Linked DNA regions of Homo sapiens: all the other regions are reported to be linked to region 3. The links are microRNA targets in miRTarBase. Many come from high-throughput screens and were not tested one by one. Region 3 holds a microRNA gene; each other region holds the end of a gene's coding sequence.

Evidence for each region. The annotated mature microRNA hsa-miR-548aj-5p reads UGCAAAAGUAAUUGCAGUUUUUG and lies in region 3 at 1,916-1,938, opposite strand. An mRNA with a match to its seed (bases 2 to 7 or 8) in the 3' UTR can be bound and repressed. Matches are read on the target gene's strand: a 7mer-m8 pairs with bases 2 to 8, a 7mer-A1 pairs with bases 2 to 7 and ends in A, and an 8mer does both.
Region 1: the mRNA of ADARB2 is a reported target of hsa-miR-548aj-5p. Seed matches in the 3' UTR shown: 7mer-A1 at 2,250-2,256, 7mer-A1 at 2,181-2,187 and 7mer-A1 at 1,424-1,430.
Region 2: miRTarBase lists TMEM68 as a target of hsa-miR-548aj-5p. Seed matches in the 3' UTR shown: 7mer-A1 at 1,040-1,046 and 7mer-m8 at 1,777-1,783.
Region 4: the mRNA of CLVS2 is a reported target of hsa-miR-548aj-5p. Seed matches in the 3' UTR shown: 7mer-A1 at 2,453-2,459 and 7mer-A1 at 536-542.

Annotation. Positions count from the first base shown.
Region 1 is chr10:1,177,311-1,184,436 of GRCh38, forward strand. It overlaps ADARB2 (adenosine deaminase RNA specific B2 (inactive)), which reads right to left. Exons shown (of 10, transcript NM_018702.4): 10 at 3-6,059. The coding sequence ends at 5,883. Among named protein-coding and RNA genes, the nearest start is that of LINC00200, 21 kb to the left of the region's middle.
Region 2 is chr8:55,733,880-55,741,005 of GRCh38, reverse strand. TMEM68 (transmembrane protein 68) reads left to right here. Exons shown (of 8, transcript NM_001286657.2): 8 at 788-2,248. The coding sequence ends at 874. Among named protein-coding and RNA genes, the nearest start is that of TMEM68, 36 kb to the left of the region's middle.
Region 3 is chr21:18,684,220-18,691,345 of GRCh38, forward strand. It overlaps MIR548X (microRNA 548x), which reads right to left and starts at 1,945; the gene lies at 1,871-1,945. The region is part of intron 2 of MIR548XHG (MIR548X host gene); the gene reads right to left.
Region 4 is chr6:123,062,334-123,069,442 of GRCh38, reverse strand. It overlaps CLVS2 (clavesin 2), which reads right to left. Exons shown (of 6, transcript NM_001010852.4): 6 at 1-5,769. The coding sequence ends at 5,682. Among named protein-coding and RNA genes, the nearest start is that of CLVS2, 70 kb to the right of the region's middle.

The DNA.
Region 1 (7,126 bases), not on the chromosome of region 3:
AGAACAATTTTACTGAATATTTTTATTTACTTAACAGAAACATTCACTTATTAGATATCACTGAAGTGCAATTTATAGAACTTAGAGGCAAATTAACATGTAAATTCATATTTTAAGGTTTTGGATTTTTTTTTACAAATATTACAAATGTACATCCATTGATACAATATTGCCATTCTATCATGCTTTTTATGTACATACCTTCAATTAGAATTACTATGTGTTAAGTTCATTTTGCTTACAAAATGCTGAAAACTAACGGGGCACACTGGGAGAGATTTTTTTTTTTTTACCGATGCATAAACTGCAGAGAGATAGAAATCTAGGGCCTGTGTGAAAAGAGGCACTGGGACCAGGTGATCTCGCCTTGGTGTTTAGGGAATGCTCATCCCTCCAACCTTGGCTTAGGATGATGAGTTGGGAAATAAAGTGTTCCTCTCACCAGGGTTTGATCTGTCTGCGGTTCCCGCAGGAGTGATATTGTTTGGTGTGAATCTCTAGAGGCCAGCGCGGTGGCTCATGCCTGTAATCCCAGCACTCTGGGAGGCCGAGGTGGGCAGATCACTTGAGGCCAGGAGTTCGAGACTAGCCTGGGCAACATGGTGAGACCCCATCTCTACCAAAAATACAAAAATTAGCCAATCTCATAAGCCGGTCTCAAAAAAGTAAATAGATCTCTAGAGATGTGGCCACCAGCGTTCCTTCTGGTGGGAGGTCAGAACATGTGGACACATTCAGGAGAGTCCAAAAATGACTGCAGCAACTCCCTGTGCACAAGGCATCAGGAACCCAGCGGGGCTCCCCCAGCCCCAGCATGAACCTGTTGTGTGGATCCCTCGTGGGGGGATGGTGCCTGAGACCTCCTCCTGGGTGGGGGCCACGGCAGCAGAACAAAGGAGCCAGGAGTTTTGGGACAGGGACTAACAAGACAGCAAGAAAGGGAAGAGGCGAGGAGGAGAGAAAGGGTTGAGAAGGGAAGCGAAGAGGCTGAGGGGAGAGTGAGCGGAGGGTGGTGCTGGCCGCCTCTCAGGCTTCCCAGAAACAGCCTGAGAAGGAAGCTCCTCTGTCTCCACCGCATCTCTGGTTGGTCCCTGTGGCCTCTGCTCCTGCCTCCTCACTTCCCCACCATCCTTCCTTCACTTTCTCGGATTCAGAATTTGTGGGAGAAGTTTGACGGGTCACCAGCAGCCCAGTGTTTCCAGAAACAGCCCTGCTCCTGCAGTGGCGAGGAACCCAGACAGCGGCAAGGCCTACACCGTGTCCTCCAGCCACCCGCCTAGCCCCACACAGTGGCAAAATACCAAAAGACCCTAAAATACCAGCGAGGCGGGGGGTGGTCTGTCCCTGCTAAGAGCTGCCTGGGGGTGCTACTGCCTCTCCTGCAACACAGGGCTTCTAAATTTCCACCTCCAACCGCGAGCTCTGCAAAAACTGCAGGCGAGGACAGGCTTTGGAGGTATGTGGGATGGCGGCTCCCTGACATGGACTAGGGGACTCTGCAGCCTCCCTGAGGGCCGCGGGAAGCCCACAGAGCCTCACCGGGTTCTGTTGGGTGTTATGAGAGGCGGCTGCAGCGATCCAACGGTAGTACATAAAAGGAAAGCCTCTCAGCTTCCCTTTGGTCTCTGTTAGAAAGTGATACTTATTGTATTTTGGGCCAATTAGTCAGATTATTTTATTAGAATGGCTTCTTAAAAAAGGGCATATAAGTTTCCCTAAATTAAAAATGTCTACTTTATGTACGTCTCAAATGTCTTCAGTTGTTTTAAACAATACACTATAGACACATCTTGAAATTTATTATCTAAAAATAGGATTTCATCAAAATAACTATTCTGGGCATTGATATCCTCTGTATTTACTGTTTATGGCTCTCCAGACGTGATAAACATTATATCCAAAAAAAAAAGCATGCGACTTTGTTGATAAGAAAAGCTCCCTGTGAAAACAAAATGAGATGGAGAAATATGATCTGTGTGTTTCTTTGAAAAGGAACCCAGCTTGATGTTTCTGAGGAACAGGACTCATCACAAAGTCAGCATGGTGTGATAGATATATACAGATGTAAAGAGAATCACAGGAATGGAAAGGAAACAATAGCTATCGACCTGCACATCCTTTCCTCAGCAAAAACAAAACCCACAGAAACCCTAACTCTATCCCTTGATATCACACACGGCTGCAAAACCGGGGCTGGAGGTGGACAGCGGAGGCTGCCTGGCCGCGCAGCCGTTCCCTGCGCCCCGTCCTGCAAAAAGGCCAGAAACCACCAGACACTAACTTTTTGACTAAGAACCAGGCCGGAAACCACATTGCTGATCTTCCTGATGGGAAAGCAGTGTGTGTTTTGGAGGCAGATAAAGGTGGTGCTGGTTTTATGAGGACTTTTGTAGGGGCCTAAGCAGGCATGAATATAGACTACAGAAAATCTGAAGCAAGGGTATGAATACAGACCACAGAAAATCTGAAGCAAGGGGCTTGGCGGTGTCAGGTGGTGGGAAGTGCGAGGAAGCCAGACGGTGATTTCGAGGTGGACTTGGAGGGGCGGGCCTGACTTCATCAGCCCCCCTTGTGTCGTGCCCAGCGTATTTTCAGGGTGACAGAAAGTGACCCATCCCCTACTTGTGTCGTGCCCAGCGTATTTTCAGGGTGACAGAAAGTGACCCGTCCCCTACTTGTGTCTTGCCCCCTCACTTGGAGGGGAATGGGTGGCCACTCTTAAGACCAATTCAGTGGTCAAAACTGCAGGGCAGACATGGCCTGAAAGTGGTGCTGGGATGTTCTGACCTGGACCTGAGGGCGAAATCCTCAGGCTTCAACACGAGCCCTTCCATCTCTGCAGAGGTGGCACAGCCCCTCCAGGCACATCCAGGGCTGTGGGAATCCTGGGACCTGGGTCTTCCAGGCACACCTGGGGCTGTGGGAATCCTGGGACCCGGCCCCCCCAAGCATAGCTGGGGCTGTGGGAATCCTGGGACCCAGCTCTTCCGGGAACTCTTGGGGCTGTGGGAATCCTGGGACCCGGGTCTTCCAGGCACACCTGGGGCTGTGGGAATCCTGGGACTCGGCCCCCCCAAGCATAGCTGGGGCTGTGGGAATCCTGGGACCCGGGTCTTCCAGGCACACCTGGGGCTGTGGGAATCCTGGGACCTGGCCCCTTCGGGCACTCCTGGCACTGTGGAATCCTAGGACCTGGCCCTTCCTGGCTGGGTCAGGCCCTGCCAGTTGGGAGCAGCCTGCGTGTGGCGTGATCTGGTGTGGCGTGCCTCCTGCGTGTAGGGTCACCCTTGACTGCCTCGACTACCTTCTCCTTTCACTACCCAGGGCCTGGGACCCTCCTTTCCTTACGTGGGGTCCCCTCTGCAGCCCACATCCCCTCTGACAGATCCCTCCACGGAAAGGCTCCGGCACCTCAACCTCACTCTGGCTGCATTGGAAACTCTTCTGTCGCTATCGGCCTTCTCTGAAGAGCTTTAATCTCTCCTTCCATGGAGTCTCCTGTGGACTTAATACACGAATCCATACACTTGTACTAATGGGTAGCATGGAATTAATGTGTGGCTTTCTCCAGATGTGGATGTTGATATTTCAGTAAAGTCTGAGTTGTTTCTGGAAGGTCAATGCCTGAGACAAAACGAATCCCAACCCCCCAGCTGTGGCTTCATGATGCTGGCCACTGGGTGGCCGAGCGCTTTCCGAGTCCCGTGAATCAGACCCTGCGTCTTCCCTGTGACAGTGAAATCTGCTTACAACACAGGCCCCCTCGCTGCAGAAACAGCGTGATTTGGAGCCCACTGGGACAAAGCATTATATGCTTCTCTAGCCAACATCTCAGATGAAGGTGATTTGAGGCCTGGGTGGGAGACTTCAGCCAGGAGCTGGCCGTGCTCCCACGCATTCAGGGGAGCGCTCACTTCTGACTGCTGCGAATGTCTGAGCCACCCATCACCTCTCGACTCTAAGTTCTCTAAGCTTCATCCTAGTGATGTCAAGTTACCAGAACTTAATAGAAACTGGTCGTTTGAGCTTAGCTTTTGCACTGAATTAAGATTTCATTTATTTTTGTGATTTTTATAAAAGATTAATGTGAGTCCTTTATTTGAAAAAATGTTCTCGTATCTTTTGAAACTTTATCTGGAAGAAGTTGTCTACTCCAGTACCTGTTTTCTTTTCTAAAAGAACTCGAGTGATAAATTTGGCCTGATTTTAAATCCCAGGAAAAGTTTCTTTTTCCATACTAATATCTCTACTTCTTATTATCTTGTAACAAATAGCTACAACTCAGTTTCATTTCTGCCTTCTCATTATGATAACTGTAATTTATAGCACTTGACTATGTACAGCACAATGTTATTCTTGCACTTTCTGGGGTGGTCAGCTGGGATTCTTTCCGGGAAGCCCACACCCCAGAGGTGGACACCACCATGCTTTGCCGTCTGCCATCACTGTCATGAATTTCAGAGATGGATTTTTTAAGTTGGAGAAATGAGAGACTGGCTATCTAGCATGATGAATGTTAGAAATGAGTTCTCGGAGGTGAGATGACAGCAGCTCGAGGTACATGGATTACGTAAAGATACTTGGAAAAGAGCCTGACCCCGTATGAATACAGCGCCTTGGCTCTCAGGGATGATGCTGTGGGCTAAAGCCCCCATGTCCCATCTCCACTGTGAGCTGAAGGTCTCTGGTGTTGGAAGCCTGCTCTGAGGGTCACAGAATCCTGCCTCTTACATTTTTTGACAGCTGAACTTTTTTGGGGTCTTGTCCTGCAAGGTGTTGATTGGAGAATCTGAAAGAATAGAGAGCTGGTAGCCTCTCAAGCTGAAGGTAAAGGTTGTTTTGATTTTATTTTGTGCTTGCTTTCTAATGAAAATTTAGTTAAAAAATCAGAATTTGATCAAAGACTTGGTCTCCTTATTACCTGGTAGGGAGGTTATAGGGTGGTAGCTAACCCTTACACAACCCAGACCTCAGTGGCTCTTAGTATCGGCCACCATAAACCAAACGCCATGACGGACTGAACAGGCATGGGCCAGGTGTTTCCGGGCTCCCCACATCTGCAGCACGCGTGGGCCGGGTGTTTCCAGACTCCCCACATCTGCAGCACGCGTGGGCCGGGTGTTTCCAGGCTCCCCACATCTGCAGCACGCGTGGGCCGGGTGTTTCCAGGCTCCCCACATCTGCAGCACGCGTGGGCCGGGTGTTTCCAGGCTCCCCACGTCACAGGTCTTAACTCTGCCTCGCAGGGGTTTTGGAAACTGTTCCTTCACTTTGTGGGAATGGCTTTCGTTTCTCTGGTTCTATTTTAGGTGTTCGGTAATGTCGTACATCTTAAATCTTTTTTGAAAGGAGGTGGAGTATAAAAACCTAAATGAATAGTGAAAATAATAGAGGATTCTTATTGGTTTCTCTGGGGCTGGGGTGGGCATGGCTTTTCTCTTCATTTGTGGCTTATCTTCATGTGCCCCCTCAAGCTAGTGAGACCCCAGCATCACCAAGAGGCGCACGCAGGGGTGGGGTGCAGGGACGGGGCCTGAGGCTCACTCCTGCCTGGTGTCGTGTCGGTGCCTCCTTCCAAGGCTGCAGCTAAAACCCCTTTGCCTGAATGGAGCCCCTCCCTCAGACTCCACAGGAAGAGTCGGCGCTAACTCAACAGTGCATGTGCCCCTGGGTGTGGGGGACAGGGTTCTGGGGCCAGCGATCTGGAAAGAGGCACGTTCTGAATTTGTGTTGTTGCTCGTCCAAACATTGCACACTCGCGTGTTTCTGGGACACCAAAGTAAAACGAATGCAGGGAACCGGCCGACCCGCCACGTCGCCCCCCAGACACGGTCCCATCCCTCCAGCGTCCCGCTCAGCTCCAGCAGCCAGGAGCCCGCAGCCTAGAGAGTCAGTAGAAACTGCTGCTGCTCCGGTGGTTTCCTCACCCAGGTGCCCAGGCCAGCCTTCTGAAAGGCCTTGAACAGCTGCTGTTTCACAGACTGGTAGGTGTGCGCCCCCAGCTTGGCCTCACAGTACATGGAGGGCGTGTCTCCAGGGCTGGGTGTCCGTGTGCTCAGCTGCGGACAAGAAGGAGAAAGAGCCAATCAGACACCAGCAGAAAAGGAGCTTCTGCTAGGTGAGTTTTACATGCCAGGCATCAGCTCCTGGCCTTGGCCTTCTGCCTTTCTTTCTCCCACTATTACAGAGAGCAACTGTGACCAGGTCCTCTGGCAATTCCACAGGAAACCTAGTCATCAAGGAAACCCGCTTCATCTGAGGTGTGAATGATGAATGAGCGGATAAACTTGACTGCTACTAAAAGTATGAACACTGTGCAGGGGCTCCAGGCAGGGTTGGGGACAGAGGGGGACAGTGGGAGCTAAAACAGCATCACAGTGGGCAGGGAGCAGGCTGGTGAGAGTCATGTTGTCGGCTGAGCAGGAGGATGATGGAGCTGGGGCGTTTCCTCTGTTAGCTTTCTGAGGTCTGCCAGGCAAAGCTTTGCAGCAACACAAGACAGGGATCAAATGCAGCTCTGATACCCCCACCACGGGGCAGGGAGGCCAGGAGGGAAGAGGATGGGGCCATGGGGGAGCTCCAAATCCCACAGCGGGTCTTCCAGGGAGGCACTCACCGGGGGGTCACCTCGAGCATGTGCAAGAGGAGAGGGCCCTTTTGCTCAGCAGGACAGCATCGACGCTTCCCTGACCTTCCAAGTCTCCAGGAGAAGGGAGACCCCGGCAGTGCCCTTGAGCGGACAGGACAGAGGCTGAGAGCTGCAGGATGCTGGGCGTCTCGGCCAAGCTCAGAGCTAATATGTGCAATTCTGAGTGTCCTCTAAGTTGGCTAAAACGTTTATTTTAGGCATTAGTATGCCTGCCCTCCTCTACCAGTTGACAAATCAACACTATTATTCCTGCTTGGATTAAAAAGTGTGGAAAAATGAGAGAGGCATTTTTTATGTGTTGGCTGGTTTTTCTGTTATTTGTTGTTTTTGGTTACAGTCTATGCTTTGGAAATGCATACAGATACAGATTTTGATTTAAAATCCAGAAATATTGCTGTTATCCCTACTTGTGAAGGAGAAATTTGCTCCTAATTGTGGATGTCGTGGAAATGCTTGGGCTTTGGGGTTGGGGAGAAA
Region 2 (7,126 bases), not on the chromosome of region 3:
CACCTCAGCCTCCCAAAGTGCTGGGATTACAGGTGTGAGCCACCACGCCCAGCCAAAGGGGCGTATTTTTATAATACATCTTTGGCCTAGTGTTTATTTTCTTTAAAGGTTAAAGTCTAGAAAAGGAAGTATATATGTATGTAAATACATAGTTCATGATGACTCATGCCTGTAATCCCAGCACTTTGGGAGGCCAAGGCAGGAGGATCCCTTGAGTCCAGGAGTTCGAGACCAGCCTGAGCAACACAGTGAGACCCTGATATAATTGTTCAGTATGTATGGTGATAAAAGAAAATATACATTAGAATTTACTAATAGCTGGAAAGGACTAAGTCTTCCATTTGCCTACTCGAAATTTTTCTATTTTTTTTCCTCTTTAAGTCCCCTTTAGTGTTTATCATGTGCAAGGTGTTGCTGTGCTTAATGCTGGAGAAATTCTAAGATGTATCTTAAGGAGCTTACAGTCTGATATAGAAAATAGACACGTGGACAACAACTATAATTGAAGGCTTAATAAAATAAGTATAAGAAATATGCTGCAGCCAGGCACAGTGGCCCATGCCTGTAATCCCAGCACATTGGAAGGCCAAGGTGGGAGAATTGCTTGAGCCCCAGGAGTTCGAGAACAGCCTGGGAAACATAGTGAAACCCCATCTCTATAAAAAAGAGAAATATATAAGCTTCAGGTGTACTGAGAAGGAAATCATTAATTCTGAGGGGTAATGGGAGATAAATCAGTCTATATTAAGATCTACTAACAATAGCTTTTCTTTTGTTTTCTTAATAGACGAAGAATGCTGTTCAAGCTTTGATTGATAAGCACCAAAGAATACCAGGAAACATTATGAGTGCTTTGTTAGAACGTTTTCATTGATAACAAAGGGTCAACTAGAAGATGATTTAGTACATTTATATTAAATGTTTGTATCTAAGGTACTGTCTTCTGAATTTTGTAGGTCCTATAATTAGTATTTTTTAAAAAAATCATGTTAATAAGCATCTTTCACAGAATTCGTTTCTTTAAAATAGTCAATTTTGTTTTTGCAATTGTGTCAAATACTAACAAATTACACACCTAGTAATTCAGAAAAAGATGTCTTATTTGTAAATTCCTAACAATTTATGCTAAACATATAGATTCTTAAGTTTATTAATAACAGCAGTTTAGGTTAAACAAACATTCCTGGATAATGCGTTAAATTTCTGTATCTGTCGCCCTGAGCTGATTTTGAAAGATGGTATAAGCTAGGGGTTAGTATAGTTGTTTAAGTTAGAAAAAACATGCTGTTGTCTGCCCCTCATTCCCTTCATGACCTTGGGCAAGTCACGTAATGTTTTTGTGCCTCAACAATTCACTTTTTAAAAACATGATCGTATGATGAATGATATTATTTTGTTATTTATATTTACTGTGATTGATAACTGTTGAACCAAAATAATAAAATAATTAATTTAAACAATGTCAAAATCCTTTAGCAGTTATGTATATATTTTCTCCATTGTGTGTTTAAATTATGTCATGTCCAGTTGCCAAGCACAATGAAAAAGATGTATTATTTTTTAAATTGAATAAAAAATTAGGAAAAATAAAATTTCTAATTATTATTTTTAGTATGATATTTTTAACAAGAGTCTATAGGCAAACAATATAGGGTGTGCTGTGCATTGTCAGCCCTATACTGTGGTCTTAATAATGCCAGCTTAAAAATCACTGTTGTGCTCTGCATTTCGTGTGTTAGAAGCTGATTCTAGGCTGAGGAAAGCAAGAGTTCTCTACTTTTGCTCAATATTGAGGCTTACCCAGTTTGACTCTACAGCCAGTGAAGTGGTTTATTGCTTCAATAAAAATATACTTGAATGATGAATTTATTTATGTTTTGTTTTGTTTTTATTTAGAGATGGGGTTTTGCCATGTTGGCCAGGCTGGTCTTGAACTCCTGACCTCAGGTGATCCACCTGCCTCAGCCTCCCAACTTGCTGGGATTACAGGTGTGAGCCACCATGCCCAGCCTGAATGATGAATTTATGTGAACACAAAGCCCTCTGAAAAATTAATGATTTTCAATTTGTTGTCTTCTTGAAAACTGAATTTAAGTATTATTTAAACAGAAAAGTGTCAGAAATCAAATGCAGTATCTCCCTCTCCCTTTTTTAAATGTTGAATTAGTAGGGTTTTTGTATAGCTTTTTGTATTGTGTGTATTTATGATATGTGAAATGTACATAAAATTAAACAATGTGAAAATAAACCTGAGTTGCAGTTAATTTTCTTGAGAAATTACATGTGACATTTTAAAAATCTTTTTTTTTTTTTTTCTGAGATGGAGTCTCGCTGTGTCTGTTTCCCAGGCTGGAGTGCAGTGGCACCATCTTGGCTCACTGCAACCTCCGCCTCCCAGGTTCAAGCAATGCTCCTTCTGTCTTCTGAAGGAGCCTCCTGAGTAGCTGGGATTACATGAGTGTACCACTACACCTGGCTAATTTTTGTGTTTTTAGTAGAGACAGGGTTTTACCATGTTGGCCAGGCTGGTCTTGAACTGCTGACCTCAAGTGATCCGCCCACCTCAGCCTCCCGAAGTGCTGGGATTACAGGTGTGAGCCACTGCGCCCACCCTAAATAGTCATTTTAAATTGATTTTTTTGTTGTACTCTTTACACATTTCTCACCTATAATCATATTCTTTGATCTAGCCACAATGAAGAAACTTCACTTTCCAGTGTAATAAATATATTTTAATTTTGTGGTCAATGAGAAGAGTCAATTAATGATTACTTGCAGTTTCCTCCCCCCACCAGTGAGCAGTGTTTGGTTCAAAATTGATGAAATATTTCAGAATGAATGAATAAATGATATAAAATGAATGAGAAATTTGTTTTGGGTCAACTATTGAGTTTTAAAGACTGAAGTTAGCCAGGAGTGGTGTCATGAACCTGTAGTCCCAGCTACTTGGAAGGCTGAGGCGGGAGAATTGCTTGAGCCCAGGAGTTCGAGGCTGCAGTGAGTCGCAATTGTGCCACTGCACAGCCTGAGTGATAGAGCAAGCCCATGGTTCTATTAATAAAGACTAAAGAAAGAACAGCATTTATTGCTAATGTGGCAAAAGCTATTATTTTTACAATATTTAAGTTTTACTGCTTTAATTAAAACCTTTTTTTAAAACCCTGATATTCAGACTAACATCATTGCTTCAGATCTTTATCTTTGCTATTTGAGTTTAATTCCCATTTATAAGAGTCAGAGAATATGACTAAATATAGAAATATGGCTGGGCATGATGGCACACACCTATAATCCCAGCACTTTGGGAGGATTGCTTGAGGCCAGGAGTTTGAGACCACCTGGACAACATAACAAGACCTCTTATCAAATAAAATTTTTTTGTTTTTAAATTAAGCTGGGTTCAGTGGCTCACACCTGTCATCCTAACACTTTGGGAGGCTGAGGCAACTGGGTCACTTGAGCCCAGGAATTCAAGACCAGCCTGGGTGAAATCCTGTCTCTACAAGAAAACGCACAAAAATCGGCTGGGTATGGTAGTGCACACCTGCAGTTACAGCTACCTGGGAGGCTGAGGTGGAAGGTTGAGCCTGGAGAGGTCAGGGCTGCAGTGAGCCATGATTGTGCCACTGCACTCCAGCCTCAGCAACAGAATGACACCCTGTCTCAAAAAAAAAAAAAAAAAAAAAAATTAAAACAAAAGAAATATAAGTAATGGGAAGAAGGTGTATCAGTTTTTTTTCATAATTTTTCTTTCCCTTCTTATCACTTCTATTCATGTGTCTTGACCCTTTTTTGAGGAGTGTTCACAGTCAGAACCTGATGCAAGTATGAAGAGCCTCTCTCCAGAAGTGTAAACATGGCGCACTTATGGGAAGTTTTTCTTGCTCATTTTTAAAAACTTTCATTCTGAAACAATTCGAAGCTTACAGAAAAGTTGCAATTATAGTGCAGAGTACTCCCATACACTCTTCACCCAGATTCACCAAGGTAACATGTCACATTTGTTTTATTCTTTTCACACTCCTGTTGCCCTCGCTGTCTCCACATATGTATCTATACTTTTTCTCCTAGATCATCTGATAGTAAATTGCAAATACCATGCCCCTTACTGTTACCTGGACTGTGAGATCATCCATTTACAGAACCACAAGACAATGATAAAAAAAATCAGGAAAATCTTGATTGATATAATACTATTATCTATAGACTGTATTTAAATTTCACCAGTTGTCTCAGTAATATAATTTATATCAATCTTTCTTCCTGATTCATCCAAGGAAGGATCACACATTGCATTTAGTTTTCCTATTTCTTTAGTCACCTTTAATCTGGAATGATTCTTCAGCCCTTCTTTGTCTTCAATGATAGTGACCTTTTTGGAGAGGGGGGACCATTTATTTTGCAGATAAGCCCTCATTTTGTTTTTGCCTCACATTTCATTACAAGTTGATTCAGACTATGCATTATTTTAGAAATACAACATGAATGATGCTGCAGCTCTGTCCAGGGCGTCACATCAGGTGGCACATATGTTGGTTTGTGTCATTAGTGGCAATAACTTTGATCACTTGGCTGAGATGGCATTCACCAGGTTCCTTCCCTGTAGTTGTTATTTTTTTCCCTTTGTAATAAGGAAGCTTATTTTGAGATTCTTTGAGACTGTCTACAGTCATGCATTGCTTAATGATGGGAATATATTCTAGAAATGCATCGTTAGGCGATTTTGTCATTGTGTGAACATCATAAAGTATACTTACCCAAAGCTAAATGTATAGCCTACTACACAAATAGGCTGTATGGTATAGCCTGTTGCTCCTAGCCTACAAACTTGTACAGCATGTGACTACTGAATACTGTAGGCAATTGCAACACAATAGTATTTTGTGTATCTAAACACAGCTAAACTTAGAAAAGGTACAGTAAAAATAAGGTATTATAATCTTATGGGACCACTGTTGACTGAAACGTTACTATGTAGCACATAACTGCATGTAGCTGTTCCTCATCAAACCTTAACTAGTTAACTTGTTTTAGCATCTTTTGAATTGATTCTTGTGTGAATAAATTATTACTAGGGATTCAAGAGTGTGATTTTCTCATATCCTATATTTACTAGTTGGCATTCTTTTTTTTCTTTTTTTCTTTTTTCTTGAGACAGGGTCTCACTCTGCTGCGGGCAGTGGTGTGATCTCGGCTCACTGCAGCTTCCTGGGTTCAAGCAATTCTCATGTGTCAGCCTCCCAAGTAGCTGGGATTACAGGTGTGCGCCACCACGCCTGGCTAATTTTTGTATGTTTAATAGAGATGGGGTTTTCATGTTGGCCAGGCTGGTAGTAGTCGGCATTCTATAAGAAAGAGCATTCCAATTTCAGTATCGTGCCCCCCCACCCCCACCCCTAGGCTTTTAAAAATAATTTCAACTTTTAAATTCAGAGGGTACATGTGCAGGTTTGTTACATGGGTATAATGTGTGACTGCATGACTCTGAGGTTTAGGGTATGAATGATCTCATCCTAGTACCTAGGACCCAACAGATAGTATATCAGCCCTTAGCCTTTTTCCCTCTCCCCTGTAGTAGTCCCCAGTGTCTGTTGTTGTTTCCACTTTTATGTCCATACCCTTAGTTTTTCTTTCTTTCTTTCTTTTTTTTTTTTTTTGAGGCAGGATCTCACTTGCCCAGGCTGGAGTGCAGTGGTGTGACCACGGCTCATTGCAGCCTCGACCTCCCCAGGCTCAGGTGATCTGCCCACCTCAGCCTCCTGAGTAGCTGAGACTACAGGCATGTGCTGAACCCCCAGGCTAATTTTTGTATTTTTTATAGAGATGGGGTTTCATCATATTACCCAGGCTGGTCTCTAGCCCTTAAGCTCAAGTGATATGCCCCCCTTAGCCTCCCAAAGTGCTGGGATTACAACTGTGAGCCACCGTGCCTGGCCACCTGTATTTATTACAACATTTCTCACTTATTTATCACTTACAAGTATTTTCCCTCAAATATAATTGGGGCATGATTCGTTGACTCATTGGCCATTGGTGATTAAACTCAATCTGTAGCTCCTCTCCCTTCTCCTGAGGTAGGGATGGGGATGGGGCTGAAACACACACACACACACACACACACACACACACACACACACACACACACACAGATACACACCACATTTTGTTGATGAATGTTTGGGGTGATTGGTGTACAAACGTGTCTGAGTCTCTGCTTTTAATTCTTTTGGGTATATACCTAGAAGTGGGACTGCTGTCTCATATGGCAATTCCACATTTAAGTTTTTGTAGGAACCACCTGTAAACCAAAAATAAATTTCTGAGGCCCCTTGATAATAACTCTTTTAACAAATTGCCATCAGAAAAATTAATAATCTACATATGACCCCCCCGATTCCAACTTCTAGTTGTCCTGACCTTCCAGATCAAATCAATGTAAATCTTACATGTATTGATTGATTGTATTTTGTCTCCCTAAAATGTATAAAAGCAAATTGTACCCCAACCGCCTTGAACACATGTCATCAGGACCTCCTGAGGCTGTTCATGGGTGCATCCTTAACCTTGGCAAAATTAACTTTCTAAATTGATTGAGACCTGTCTCAGATACTTTTGTGCTCACACAGCAAACTTCCACAGAGACTGCATCATTTTACATTCCCATCAGCGATGCACCTTTACTAACACTTGTTATTTTCAATTTTTTTTGACAATAGCCACCCTATGACTAGTGGTGAAGTGGTATCTCACTGTGGTTTTGATTTGCATTTCCCTAATGATTAGTGATGTTGAGCATGTTTTCATGTGTTTAGTGGCCATTTGCATATCTTCTTTGGAGAAATATCTATTCAAGCCCTTAGTCCATTTTTGGATTGGATTGTTTTGTTGTTGATGTTGAGGTTTTGGAGTTCTTTATATATTCTGGATATTAATCTTTTATCAGATATATAATTTGCACATATTTTCCTCCTCTTTGTAGGTTGTATTTTTATACTTCAATAATGTCCCTTGATTAATAAAAGTTTTTAATTGTAATGAGATCCAATTTAGCTATTTCTCCTTCTTCTTCTCTCTCTCTCTTTTTTGGGCCTATGCTTCTGATGTCATATCCAAGAAATAATTGCCA
Region 3 (7,126 bases):
TAGAGATAGAATTTCAGACAGGTGGGTTTGGCTGGAAAATTGCAGAGCATGTATTAGAAAGAAGTATGATGTACAGACAATGGCTTTTATCTGCTTCAATCTGTTGCACAATGTAAACCACACATGCCGTGGATGAACATCTAGTAATAGTGTATAGAAAATCAAAGATAACTATGTTCACAGATTTCTCATTAGAAAGTATGCCAGGACGGGGCATGGTGGCTCATGCCTGAAATCCCAGCACTTTGGGAGGCCAAGACAGGAGGAATGCTTGACCCCAGGTGTTTGCGACCAGCCTGGCCAATATAGTGAGTCCCAGTCTCTAAAAAAAAAAAAAAAAAAAAAAAAAATTATATATATAGCCAGGCATTGTGGTTTGCGCCTGTAGTCTTGGTTGCTCAGGAGGCTGAGGTGGGAGGATGGCTTGAGTGTGAGAGGTCAAGCAGTGAGCTGTGTTCATGATGCTGCCCTTCAGCCTGTCTGAGATTGAGACTCTGTCTCAAAAAAAAAAAAAAAGAAAGAAAGAAGAGAAAAGAAAAGAAAGCAAAAAGAAAGAAAAAAAAGGAAACTATGCCAGGCAGTAGACAATAAAATATCTTTGAAGTAGGAAGGAAAAATAACCATCAATCTAGAATTTTATATAGAGTAAAATATCTACAACAAATCAAGGTAAAACTGATACTTTTCCCAACAACAAAAGTTAGAGGAATTTATCACTAACTAAATTGAACTAGATGAACTATTACAGTTTTTAAGCAAGGAAGCTGTTATTTGATGGAAGCTAAGGTATACATAATCAAACAATGATTACCAATGTAGAAGTTTCCTTTCATTTTCTGAAACCGTTTTTGGGACATAACACGCTGCTTATACTGTGTGTTTATATGGTACAGTATTATGTTAAAATAAACTAATAACATAAGGATATATATTGTGAACACAAAACAACCATAAAAATAGTTATAGTTGATTAACAGTATTTAAAATGAAATACAAAAATAATAAAAGACTGACAAAGAGCAAGTAAAAAGCAACAACAAAAATAGATGGAATAAGTAATAAGCAAGGACAAAAAAAAAGAACTATTGTTCCTTCTTTCTTTTCCTTTCCTTCTGTGTCACTTTCAGCATAGGTAGTTAAATAATGCAGTAAAGTAACAGAGAAAATAAATTATGTAATAGGGTTCCATGGTTGTTTGTGTTTATTGGAAAGTCACTGCTTGTTTGCAATTGAATTGAGTTCTGGTTTTGAATGGAAAGTGTAGCCTCTTGGAGTTGTCAACCTTGCTCACTCATTTATAGACATAAAATGCTTATCTTGTACTCAGAGTCTTGCTGAACTTTCAAGCACTGTGGGTCCACAAGAATTCTGCGTTCACGTGGCATCACAAACGCTGTATGTGAATAGAACAGTAAGAAACTGAACATGTATATCACAGACATCTCTGCTCACACTTGTACTCAAGTGTCCCATCATACTGCACTTTTAAAACACAGAGGTAAAATTATTTAAAAATTTAAGGCAGTAATAAGAGAGTGTTAAATCAAAAACAGGGCACTTCTGAGCATGAAATCTTGTATGACTGTACAAGGTACAGTGCATGAAGCTGGCCCTACATGAACAAAACGAATTATTTCCTTCTAAGTTCTAGAACAAAGTAGAGATATCCAGTCTAACCACTGAAATTCAATATTGCATCAACATTCTTGCCAATGCAATATGAGAAAGATAAAAATTAATACAACACATGCCATTAGTAACAACGTTAAAAACATGAACACAGGAATAAACTTAGCATAATGTATGCCATACCTGTTTACTGAAATCTTCAAAACTTTGCTGAGAAAAATAAAACAAGATCGAAATATTAAGATTGGTGTGAAAGTAATTGCAGTTTTTACGATTGAAAGTAACGCAAAAACTGCAATTACTTTTGCACTAACCTAATATATTGCAATGTATAATGTGATTACAGATTGGAAGGCTTAATGTTGTTATGATAGTATCTCTCCCCAAATTGATCTATATGTTCAATGCATATTTAAAAAACAATTGTAGCAAAGTTCTTTGTAGAAATTGTTAAGCTAATTCTAAATTTTATATGGAAATCCAAAGGACATATTATATACAAAATGATTTCTAGGAAGAAGAACAAAATTAGATGAGCAGCACCTTTTTCTTCCAAGACTCCCTATATACTCCTTTTAGGCACCAGTCATAGAGGTAGTATGGCTGAGGTTTACAACTGGATGTATAGATAATGGAACAGAATAGAAAATCCAGAAACATGTCATTTTTTATGTGCTTAAATTTTTGAAAGTATTTCCATGGTTATTCAATGAGAAAAATTATAGTCTTTTAAACAATTTTATCCCAGAGGGAATGTAAGTATATTTAAAGACAAAAAAGAAACCTTAACTTATAACATGTCTGCACATGCTCATATACAAGAGGTATACAAGAATAGATGGAAGAGGAGTAAGATAAAAATACCAATTAAGGCCTTTGGACTAACAAGTGATGGAGTCTTTTTTTCCTGCCACTAACACTTTTCGTATAACTTTTTCCCCTAGAAATTGTAACTAGCCACAATTTGAAAATTAGAGATTGACAGTGAAGTGTATTAGTCAGTTTTCATACTGCTGATAAAGACATACCCAAGACTGTGTACTTTATAAAAAAGAAGAGGTTTAATGGACTCACAGTTCCAGGTGGCTAGGGAGGACTCACGAACATGGAGAAGGCTAAAGGCACGTCTTACATGGTGGCAGACAAGAGAGAATGTAGACAGACAAGTCTACATTGTCTTGGCAGACAAGTGAAAGAGGAAATAAATCTTCAGATCTCGTGAGACTTATTCACTAACAGGAGAACAGTATAGGAGAAACCATCTCCATGATTCAATTATCTGCCATGAGTCCCTCCCACAACACGTGAGAATTATGGGAGCTACAATTCAAGATGAGATTTGGGTGGGGATGCAGTCAAACCATATTAGTAAGTCTCCCCTGCATTATGGTGTACTGTTAGTGTGTCACTCATATCATATCAGATTCCTTAAACATTTGTTTGCATAAAGTCCCCATGTAATTCTATTCCCCATAGTAAGTACCTGCTTCTCTAGCACCATGTACTATGTACTATGCACAAGTAGCCAGAATCAGATTTGTCTACAGAATTGGAGAACTATTATCTCCGAACTTTTGTTCTCCTGCTAACAGCTCTTAAACATTGAGAGATGTGTGTAGAGGCTTAAATACTCCAAGCGCTTTTTCTCTAATCAGGAATAGACTATTTTTGAAGGATTGAGTAAAAGCTGTTCTTTGCAGGACTTTTCTATTATCATACTCATTTTTGGACTCCTCTCATGTCCTGTCTCATTTCCCCATGTGGTTATCAACTTGTCTAGGGATAATGTAAAATAACACATATCATGCTGGTCTCAGGACAAAACTCCATTTATTACAGTTGGTGCAAAACAGTCAGATTTTATGCCTATGATGCTGGTATAATTATTATACCATGATATTGACCCATTTCACTCCAAAACCCCTTCTAGTTTGTATAATAATTTATACAGTCATCATTTTATAATGTGAAATAGTCACAACCACAACCACATTCTACCCAGGAGAGAGAGTGTAGAAAAATCTATGATAATTTAGGAAAGAAAGAGTCAGACAAAGCAGGTGCTCTTGAAGTTTAAAAACAAAACACATTTTGAACATGCAAGAAACTTTGTGAATACTGTTTGCGGAAGCCTCCTTGACAACATTATGAGGGGATGAACTCCAGGTGGAAAGGAGTAATTGCTATTTAACAAATAAATGAAAGAAAGGCTAAAGTTGACAGAATAGATTATATATTGTATATGCTCTGATAATGTGGAAATAATTCATCTAACACAAAACGGAACAGATGGCTTTGATAAGAAGATAAAAAATAAAGTTAGTTTTCTGATTACATCATCGTAATTGCTAGATGTCAAAGGGTATTATTTAAAGCTACAAATCAAATAGTAAAAGATCAAGTCTATTTAAGGAAACAATGAAAAACACTCGAAAGTTATTGATATCTATTAAATGTGGGTGATGGTATCCTGGAAAGGGGAAAGGAAAACTATACAACTTCATGTTCATGGTGTTTAAAAGAATTGAAGAAAAAGGATATTTTACAAACGTAAAATCATTCATGCAATTTCTAGAGCAAAATTATAAACTTCCCTAAATATTAAAAATACACCAAAAGAAAAAATAAAAATAGACACCCATACTGAATATTTCATACATTGTGATGGTTAGTTTTTGTGTGTCAACTTGCCTAGGCTATGGTATCCACTTCTGTTAAACACTAATCTAAATACACCAGTCTGGATGTTGCTGTCTGATGAGGTTAACATTGATGATCAGTAGACCTTAAATGAAACAGATATCCTCCATAACGTGGGTGAGTCTCACCCAATCTGTTGAAGATCTTAAGAGTAAGGATTAAGGAAGAAATGGGATCCTCAAAATTTGAATGGGTCATCTGAAAATACTATAAATGAAGAAAAGGGAATTGTACTCTTAAATTTTACTGAATTTTAGAAGTGTCCCTTTCACCATCATTTAGAGATTAAACCTGCATTGACTGAGGAAACTGTAATGCCCCGTCCCCAGGTAGTTTCCTTGCAAGATGCTGTTAATCCTCCTCAGCGCCCCCCTCCCACGACTCTTTTATTCTAGACTTGTACCTAGACTCAAGTTCTAGCAGAAAGCTGAGGTCGAAGTGTACCCCATGAGTAGATATGCCAGAAGCCAAAAGAACTACATAATTTTTTCAATTTATACACACAGAAACCCTGGGAATATGTGAGAAATAAGTATTAAGGTTGTGGGATAGTAGGAACATAACGTTGGATCTGGCTAAATTTATTGATACAGGCCAGCTAAGCAGAGATCCTTCATTTAATAGTGCAGCATGAGGGGTTAGAAAAAGATCTAACAGTTTAGTTGATTGGTTCAAACAAAAGCTGGTCTACACTACAAATGAAATTGAAAATTTCCGATTATTTATTCCTGACCTAGAACTCTTTCTTTAGCTTATACAGATCAGGTAAGAATTTAGCACACTCTCCATCTATTCTACCCCTAGGGACACCAAGATCAATTAGCCAATTCCATAAGTTATCTGTGAGTCGGACTATTTGTCTAATTGATCTAGGTCAAGAAATAGGAGTCTAAATTGAATCATAAAAGCAGAAAGCGCACCTCTATCAATTCCCAGAATGGAGCCAATTACTGATCCAGAACTCCTTGAATGAAAGGGAGGCCAGGTTCCCTTGAGGAAGGACTTCGCTATACTGCCAAAAAAATTTATATCATTAATCTTTCCCCATCCTTTCCAAAAGGGATGTATAGCCTTTTGTCAGGGTGACTTTGCATTAGGAGAAAAACAAGTAATCAATACTGAACATTGGATCCAAACTGATTCCAGGAGACCTAAAACATTGCTGCAATATATCAGAGTAGGGGCTTATAGGTCAGTTGAATAATGGAGTTATAGCCAAGGTGCATTTTGCAGTTGGTCCAGTGGATCCCTGATCCCATCCTATGGTTATTTTCCCAACTCAGAATGTAGGGGTGCTGATATCCACCACATGCCCATTTAACTTGCCTATTTGCTTGTGCAGAAAACAGATGGATCTTGGAGAATGACAATGAATTATCATAAGCTTTACCCACGTGGTAACACCAATTACAGCTGTTGTACCAGATGTAGTTGCATTGCTTGAGTGCATTAACGCATGCCCTGGTATCCGGTATGCAGCTATTGATATAATACGTGCTTTTTCCTTTTCACCTGTTAGTAGAGTCCACTAAAGCTGTTTACGTTCAGCTTGCAAAACCACAATATGCCTTTATTTTCATACCTCAGGAGAATATTAACTCTTCAGCCCTATGCTAAAGTTTAGTCCACACCACAATACACATTTATTTTCATACCTTAGGAGAATATCAACTCTTCAGCCCTATTCTATAGTTTAGTCCACACCACAGTACACCTTTATTTTCATACCTTAGGAGAATATTAACTCTTCAGCCCTATGCTGTAGTTTAGTCCATACCACAGGACACCTTTATTTTCATACCTTATGAGAATATTAACTCTTCAGCCCTATGCTATAGTTTAGTCCACACCATAGTACACCTTTATTTTCATATCTTAGGAGAATATTAACTCTTCAGCCCTATGCTATAGTTTAGTCTACACCACAATACACCTTTATTTTCATACCTTAGGAGAATATTAACTCTTCAGCCATATGCTATAGTTTAGTCCACACCACAGTACACCTTTATTTTCATACCTTATGGGAATATTAACTCTTCAGCCCTATGCTGTAGTTTAGTTCACACCACAGTACACCTTTATTTTCATACCTTAGGAGAATATTAACTCTTCAGCCCTATGCTATAGTTTAGTCCACACCATAGTACACCTTTATTTTCATATCTTAGGAGAATATTAACTCTTCAGCCCTATGCTATAGTTTAGTCCACACCACAATACACCTTTATTTTCATACCTTAGGAGAATATCAACTCTTCAGCCCTATGCTATAGTTTAGTCCACACCACAGTACACCTTTATGACTTGGCGATGCGGGCTCTTTTTTGGTTCCATATGAACTTTAAAGTAGTTTTTTCCAATTCTGTGAAGAAAGTCATTGGTAGCTTGATGGGGATGGCATTGAATCTATAAATTACCTTGGGCAGTATGGCCATTTTCATGATATTGATTCTTCCTATCCATGAGCATGGAAGGCTTTTCCATTTGTTTGTGTCCTCTCTTATTTCCTTGAGCAGTGGTTTGTAGTTCTCCTTGAAGAGGTTCTTCAATCCCTTTTAAGTTGTATTCCTAGGTACTTTATTTTCTTTGTAACAATTGTGAATGGGAGTTCACTCATGATTTGGCTCTCTGTCTGTTATTTGTGTATAGGAATGCTTGTGATTTTGCACATTGAAGAAGTTGCTTGTCAGCTTAAGAAAAACCTCCTGAGACGATGGGGTTTTCTAAATATACAATCATGTAATTGACTTTATTTCTTGGTCTTTAAAGATACTGGACACAGCCACTGCATAGA
Region 4 (7,109 bases), not on the chromosome of region 3:
GGATAAATGAGGGAAACTCACAGAAGACACAAATACATATTTATTGAGTAAGCATTCTTTCTCAAATCAGGCTGAATTTTTTTTTTAATTTCACATCATATTTTGACCTGGGATTACTTTTTTGAGGATTTATTTAAACCAATGCTTTTCTGTAATTCAAATTTCTAAATTTAATCTCTTGCCTAATCCAGTCATTCTATTGCAAATGTGAAAACCCTAGTTATTTTATTTACTGATCATTCCTTTGCTATATGTAATTAAAACATTAGTTTACTTCTTTCAAACTTTCATTTGAAAGTTTGACTAGAAGTTATAGAATATTGAATACGTCATTTTGATGAAACAAATTACTATATATTTTCCTCTTTGATCCCCACACATACAAATATCACAAACTTGAGGAATCTTAACTTAAATAGCTAAGCACAATTTCTCTCAAAATAAAAATATTGCTAATTTTTAGACGATTTTTTAAAGAAATCTCCATTTTATAGATGCAGCAGATCCAGGACTACCAAATTTAACATTAACAATGTGCAAAATAAATGTATACATTTAAAATATAAAATATACAAAATAAAAGCATACATTTCTTTTAAACAGAAATGTATACTTGTCCAAAAATTATATTATAGTGTTTTGGAATTTATAACTCCTTCAAAAGGCCAAATAGTAAATGCCGTGTAGTACTAAATAAGTAGTTTGTAGTAGTAAAAATTAATAACATTTGAGTAAAATAGCAAATAATATACTCAGTATTCTTCAAGGACTTGTATGATTTCCTGTTAGACATCTTTTATTTTTCCTGGATAGCTTTGAAAACAAAAACTATTTGGTTTTCTGAGTTTTATTTATTGTTTAAGCAAATATAAAATCTGAAAAATTGAAAAATTGGATTAGAAACAAGACAGTGCTTTGTATCTCTGTTAAAAGTAAATGAATTAAAATTCATTGCAATTTTTTAAAGTAGTTGAGGATTGGGTGACCCTTAAAACTGTGGTTAAAATTTATTTTCACCTAAGTCCATCTCGTTCACCAGGTAAAATAAGTCTTACAGAATAAATGCACTATATCAAGGACAGACATATTTGCACTGAGACTTAAATCTAAGTCAAATAATGACAAAACTCTTCTAAATTTTAACAATTTCCATTATTTACCATGAGTGCATTGATTATATTTAACTCCTATAATTAAGTGATTTCTACATTTTTTTATTTCAATAGCATCATTTGTACACCTGCTTCCTTGAAAAAAAGGCTAATTTGAGTGTTTCAATCCACAAAGTTGTTATCTTATATATTTTCCTATGGTACTGGAGAATTCATTCCCATAGTTAGTACATAACAGAATCCACAGCACTATTTTCATGTCCTATGTTAACCTCCAAATATTTATAAAATAAAATCTTTAATTCTTAAAAAAGATTATATTCTCTAAGCCATTGAGATCATAATATAATAATGTTACAAAGCCAAGCTTCTTTTGTATGTTTACTTATTTGCCTTTTTTCATGTAGCAAATAATGTCAAATAGTTCCAGTAGCATATGGGAAGCTATTTTTTCAACTAAAACCAAAGACAAAAACAAGAAAACAAATCCTTTTCATTACTGAAGATAATTACACACCTTGCATATTTAACCAATCTTCTTTTGTTCCAATATGTTGGTTTATAATCTGCCTCTTCTTGTATGATCAGTGACCTCACAAATTTCAAATGCATTACTATGTTTCAGGCTATGTATTTATATAGCAGATCTACAATGGAATATATGCCTATGAGCTTATTGTTGTAAAAAATGTACATATACCATATCTGAAAGTTCAAATATCATGCTAGAGCTCTGCTCATTTTATTTAGTGTGTTGAAAATTTTTGAAGTGTCCTCATGGCTGATGGCAACTTTTCATGTAATCATTAATAAATATACACAAAAAAAGAAGCTGAGATATTATTCACCAACCACACAAGGCAGACCTTTAAATAAAACAACAGAAGAGTGTACAGCCTCTCAGCAAGCTTTCTTAATGTAACTTCTTTAAAGGACCAGAGATATGTCCATAAACCTTTACATTGTAGAAGCAAATGATCCCTGTCCCTGAAGACATACTCCATGGCTCTGAAGGTTTCTTTATGTGAAGAGTCATAAACATATTCCCCAATGTCTAAAACAACTCTCCAATTTCTTGATGCAATAGAGGGACCTCTTTTCCCTCAGGAATATTACAGACGCTTCACATGTTTAACAATATGACCTAGTTAACAGTATTAAAAAAGCTAAGTATTAATGTATGAATTTTTGGCTTTCCTGCTTATGAATGTATGAATTTTTGGTACTATAAAGTAAATAAGTATTCTATATGAAAAAACTTAGGAAATATCTCTGTCTACACTTATGCAAACCATTACTGAAATGAAAGAATTCATGCATGCCCACTTCAAAAACTTGCTTGCAAAACTCTGTTTAATACTCGTATATCGTTTTAGCCTAGTGCCACGTTTATCATTAACATGTACTAAAGTTACTGTATTTAACTTACACAACAGAGACTTAATACTGTATGAGTATGTTCAAATAAAGGCCTTAAATATCCTTCTTCAAATGATATCTATATTTCACCTATATAATATAGATTTACGTATTTACTTTTTGGAAGAGAGTACAAATAAAATCCATATGCCAGTAACGTTGCTTTATTCCATTTTCAAAGAGGCACTTCTTCATATTTCTTAGAGTATATTTTCATGATAATCTCTTCCCTCTTAAATAGTAGTCAAAAATGCAGGCAAACATCACTGACAACATAAGAGAAGTTATTTATTTTTAAACCAGCTTTGGAATCACCTGCCCCTGAAATAACTGGAAGAAAGAAAAAATATCAGAAATAGAAGATGGAACAGGCAGGGTGAAAGAAGTAAATGGACTACTGGACCATTCCAAGTCAAATGCGATAATTCTTTGAAGCCCGCAAATTTCAAGTGACAAGACAACTAAAATAGCTCTCGAAGTACAGAGGAAAATTCATTAGGGCAAACAGTCTAGTGTGTTAGTGTGTGTGTAAGAGTGTGTGTGTGTGTGTGTATGAGAGAGAGAGAGAGAGTGGAGGTATACTATTGCAATTAAAATACAAGAGTATAGGAGTGCTTATAGGCATACAACTATAGTGTATAGGTTATTCATAGACATAGGATGTGACACAGAATATCATGAAGGGAAAAATTCCTAAACAGTGCTAGATAGCTGGTGCTGAGGGGTAAATTTATAAAGTTGAATGAATATCCCTTGACTAAGGTTCACAAACATTACTAGAAAATGAGTTTATTCACAGAATGAACTAGATATGGTAATTTCAAAAGGCATCATCATTGTAATTTGTTCATTCATTTTAAAATATTTTACACAATCTAGCCAACTCTCAATTGCTCATCTAAAGATGAGCAGTAATGCAATGCAAACTTTCCAAATGTGGGTCTGGGAGACAGTGTGAATGATACTTATAATTAGATAGGCATACATATAAAATATGCCTTTCTAGTTATTTTTATATATGACACTAACTTTACGATAGGGGAAAGAAGCTGCCAATGCTGGTTGACATCTGAAACTGGCAGAATTCTGAAAACTGGCAATAAATGGTACACATCAAGAGAAACTCATGAGAATGAAAAGTTGACTGCCCTCTGCACTTACAATGTTTCTATTTTATTCCAATGGATTATACTGCCTAAGATTTATATAGTCTAAAAAGCCCATGGCTACAAAATGTATGTCAGGTAGGCAAGAATGTAAGAATATCAATGGTTAGAATTCTTATAAAGGTAAGAACTGCTGAGACATGTTGTCCCCAGTGCATTCCAATCTCTGTAAAAGTCACAAGGAGAGCAGAGTGCCTGACAGTCATTATTCTTCTGCACTTGACTGGAGGTTGGCATTATTAAGGTATCTTTCATTTGTGTTAATTAATGTATTTTTACACACATGAGGCAGTCCATTGATACACTGTACATTGGTGTATTCAGCTTGCTTTTACAATTTTTGGCTGCAGAATTATAACAAATTTTGGGAGCTTTTGGCCAAAAAATATGAAGGCTGACACATGCCTTTATTTTTGTTGGTTTCCAAGAGTTTCTGAGATATTTTTCTTCCAAAAGAATACTTTAATGGTAAACTCTCAATCTCAAAATTTATTATGGGTGATAAAAATCATTTTTTCACATTGAAATTTAAAATTAAAAAATTAAGATTTGCTGTAATTGTATAAATTTTATGAAATAAAATGTTAAATATGCAAATTTCTAAATCCACGTATAAATGATTACATGTTGTCATAGATGCCTTCCAATAATTTCATTATATCTCCTGAATATAATGTGTTTTTTCAGTCTTTTCTGAAAGAAATTGTGGATAAATAGGATCACGAAGATAATTAACTTAAATTTGAAAATAAAATTGGCTTTCTGTCACCTGATGCTACCTACACTATGTTGAGACCTATTGCTTCTTTGAAGGAAAAATATAGTTCAAATAAGATGGCACATATGTAAGATTGCATTATAAATTAACTTGGAATTCCTTTAAATAGGTACACTGAAAGTCAGTTTCACTATTTCTCCTTTTCATTAACTTCAGTGGAAGTAGTTTTCCAGAGTTATCTCATGTAATTATCCATAAGATCATTGAATATCTATGATTTATTTTATAAGCCTGTCACATTAAGGATTTATTAGAGCTCAGTAAAAATATATATGTGTGAATATATATATATATATACTTTTTAACCAGTGCACAACAATTAGAAATTAGCCCCTCATCTGTAAGTGGAAAATTTTATGTTCAAAATTAGCTGTCAGAACACTGTTCACATGAGTTCTCATTCTCTTAGTCAAAGAGTTTTGGAGGGGAAATGTACTTAGAGTACATTAGGAAGAAATATAATAGGGTCTTGAATAAAGGGCACATTGTGAAGACAGCAATTTAAAAAGAATCCACTCTTTTTTACATTTCTACGTCTTAATTGAGGAAACACATCTTTTCACAAGATTCCAAGAATTAAACAACATAGAAGAGTTCAAGTGTTCAGTTTACCAGCTCATCTGCCATTCCTTGCCTCCAAAATGCAAGGCCAATGATAGTTACTAAGACACATTTCTCTGAAATGAAAATCACTAGACAGGAAATACATTAATCATAAAATTTCCTGGAATCACTTAGTTGTGTGTGCCCGTTAAGAGTATGTTTGAATACTGACAGAGTTTCAGAGAAAAACAATGAAACAATCACTATGAGAGCTGAAATATGGCTTCATAGGAAAGAGGGCTACATTTAATTAGCTTTGACTGTGTCTTTTCTGCTTTTTGTTATAGTTCATAACACTGGCATGGACTTTTGAGCCAACCTTTTTCCAAACTGAGTTACTACTGAAATTTACAAACTTGACATGAAGATTACATTATATTTACAAACAACTTGGCACTTACAGAATAAATTATTGACATTTTAAAAATCCAGCCCAGGGCCCCCATGGTTCAGGCCAAGGAAAGCCTGATGCCTTGTTATATATTATGCTACATTAACATGAATAAGTCGGTTTCCAGCTGGTAATTCCTCTACAGTGTTGTCCCTGTTGCTGAAAACCAATACTTTCCATTTCTAATCCATGAAGGGGATGTAGAGAAGTTATTAGTCCAGAGAAAGCAATGGTTGCATGTTTTCTTCCTCATTTTTATCCATGCGTTTTAGTACTGTAGGATCCACTACTGATTGAGATCTGGAAAGGATAAAGCCAACGTCAGTGAGTTATTACCAGGTAATTGTGCAGATGACATTCTCTCCTCTTTTTGTCATTACTTCTCCCAGGAATGTGAATTCCCTTCCTCTATATCAAGAAATTTATGAATTGTGGATGTTGCACATTTAGAGAAAAACCACTGCTGGTGATGTTTTGCACTGGAGTGAGGAAAAAAATCCCCTCTGGCCTCTAAATAGAATAGTGAGCCGCCAATGATTCTAAATAGACAATACCAGGCTTAAGAGCTCTTCACAGTTAGGGAAGATTCTTTTCTTTGAGATATCACAAATTTCTAGTGTAGGATAGATGTTTTCCAATAAAACATCTCCAAATGGAAAAAAATTACAGTGAAATGATTATTATGATAAACTAAATAGAAATAACAGGAGGCTTAATTCCAGTCTTTAAAAAACATATGAAAAAAAAGCAACAAGAATGCACCTTTTTTGACCGTCATTTTTTAACTTTAATGATTGTATCAACCAAAAGATCAAAATTTGTATGTTTCTGTTAAATGTCCTAGTAGAATATCCAAATAAAATCAACCTTCATCTTGAGAATTTCATGGAACAGTTATAGATTTTTAAAAAGTAAAACCCCCTCTTGTTTAGGCAGCAACAGTTTATGATTAGGAAAGCACATAATTTGAAAACCCACTTATACATGCCTTTGATAGCAGGTGGGGCTTCTGTCTCAATTTGTCATTAGGAAACAATATGAGAATGGGAAAGAGGAAAATCAATGAAACATGCTCTGTCATGGCAGGAAGCTGCCATCTTAATAGCTGTAGCATTTAGTAAGCAGCTGCCCTTTTAGAATTCTCCTTGGTAATGAATTCTTCCCCTGCTGCTGCATTCCAGCCAATTGGCTTTTGCTGTGGCAATATGCCTCTTAGCAGACCTCATTAACTTCTGAAAAGACTATAAGCTAAAACACAACTGCACATGCAAATGAAAAAGAACAGCAACGGAACTAATTATCAAAGAAAAAATAATTACAGGATTAACTGATAAACTGATTAAATTTAAATAAACTTAAATTATTTCCTAAAGAGGGAATGAAAATGAAGGTGAAAGCATTAAAAAATTGAGAGATTTTGTTTCCTAAGTGTCATTTACACTATTTTATCTCAATATTAAATAGGCATTAGATGCCTATCATGGAAAAAAAAGACTTGCTAAAGTTGTGTGTGTGAGCGTAAGACAGAATAGATGAGGATATAAGATAATAATAGGATAAGATATGAATATAAGAATAGGATGAGGAAAAGGACAATAAGGAGAAAGAGTAGAGAGAATAGAGATTTTGTGTCACTTTTA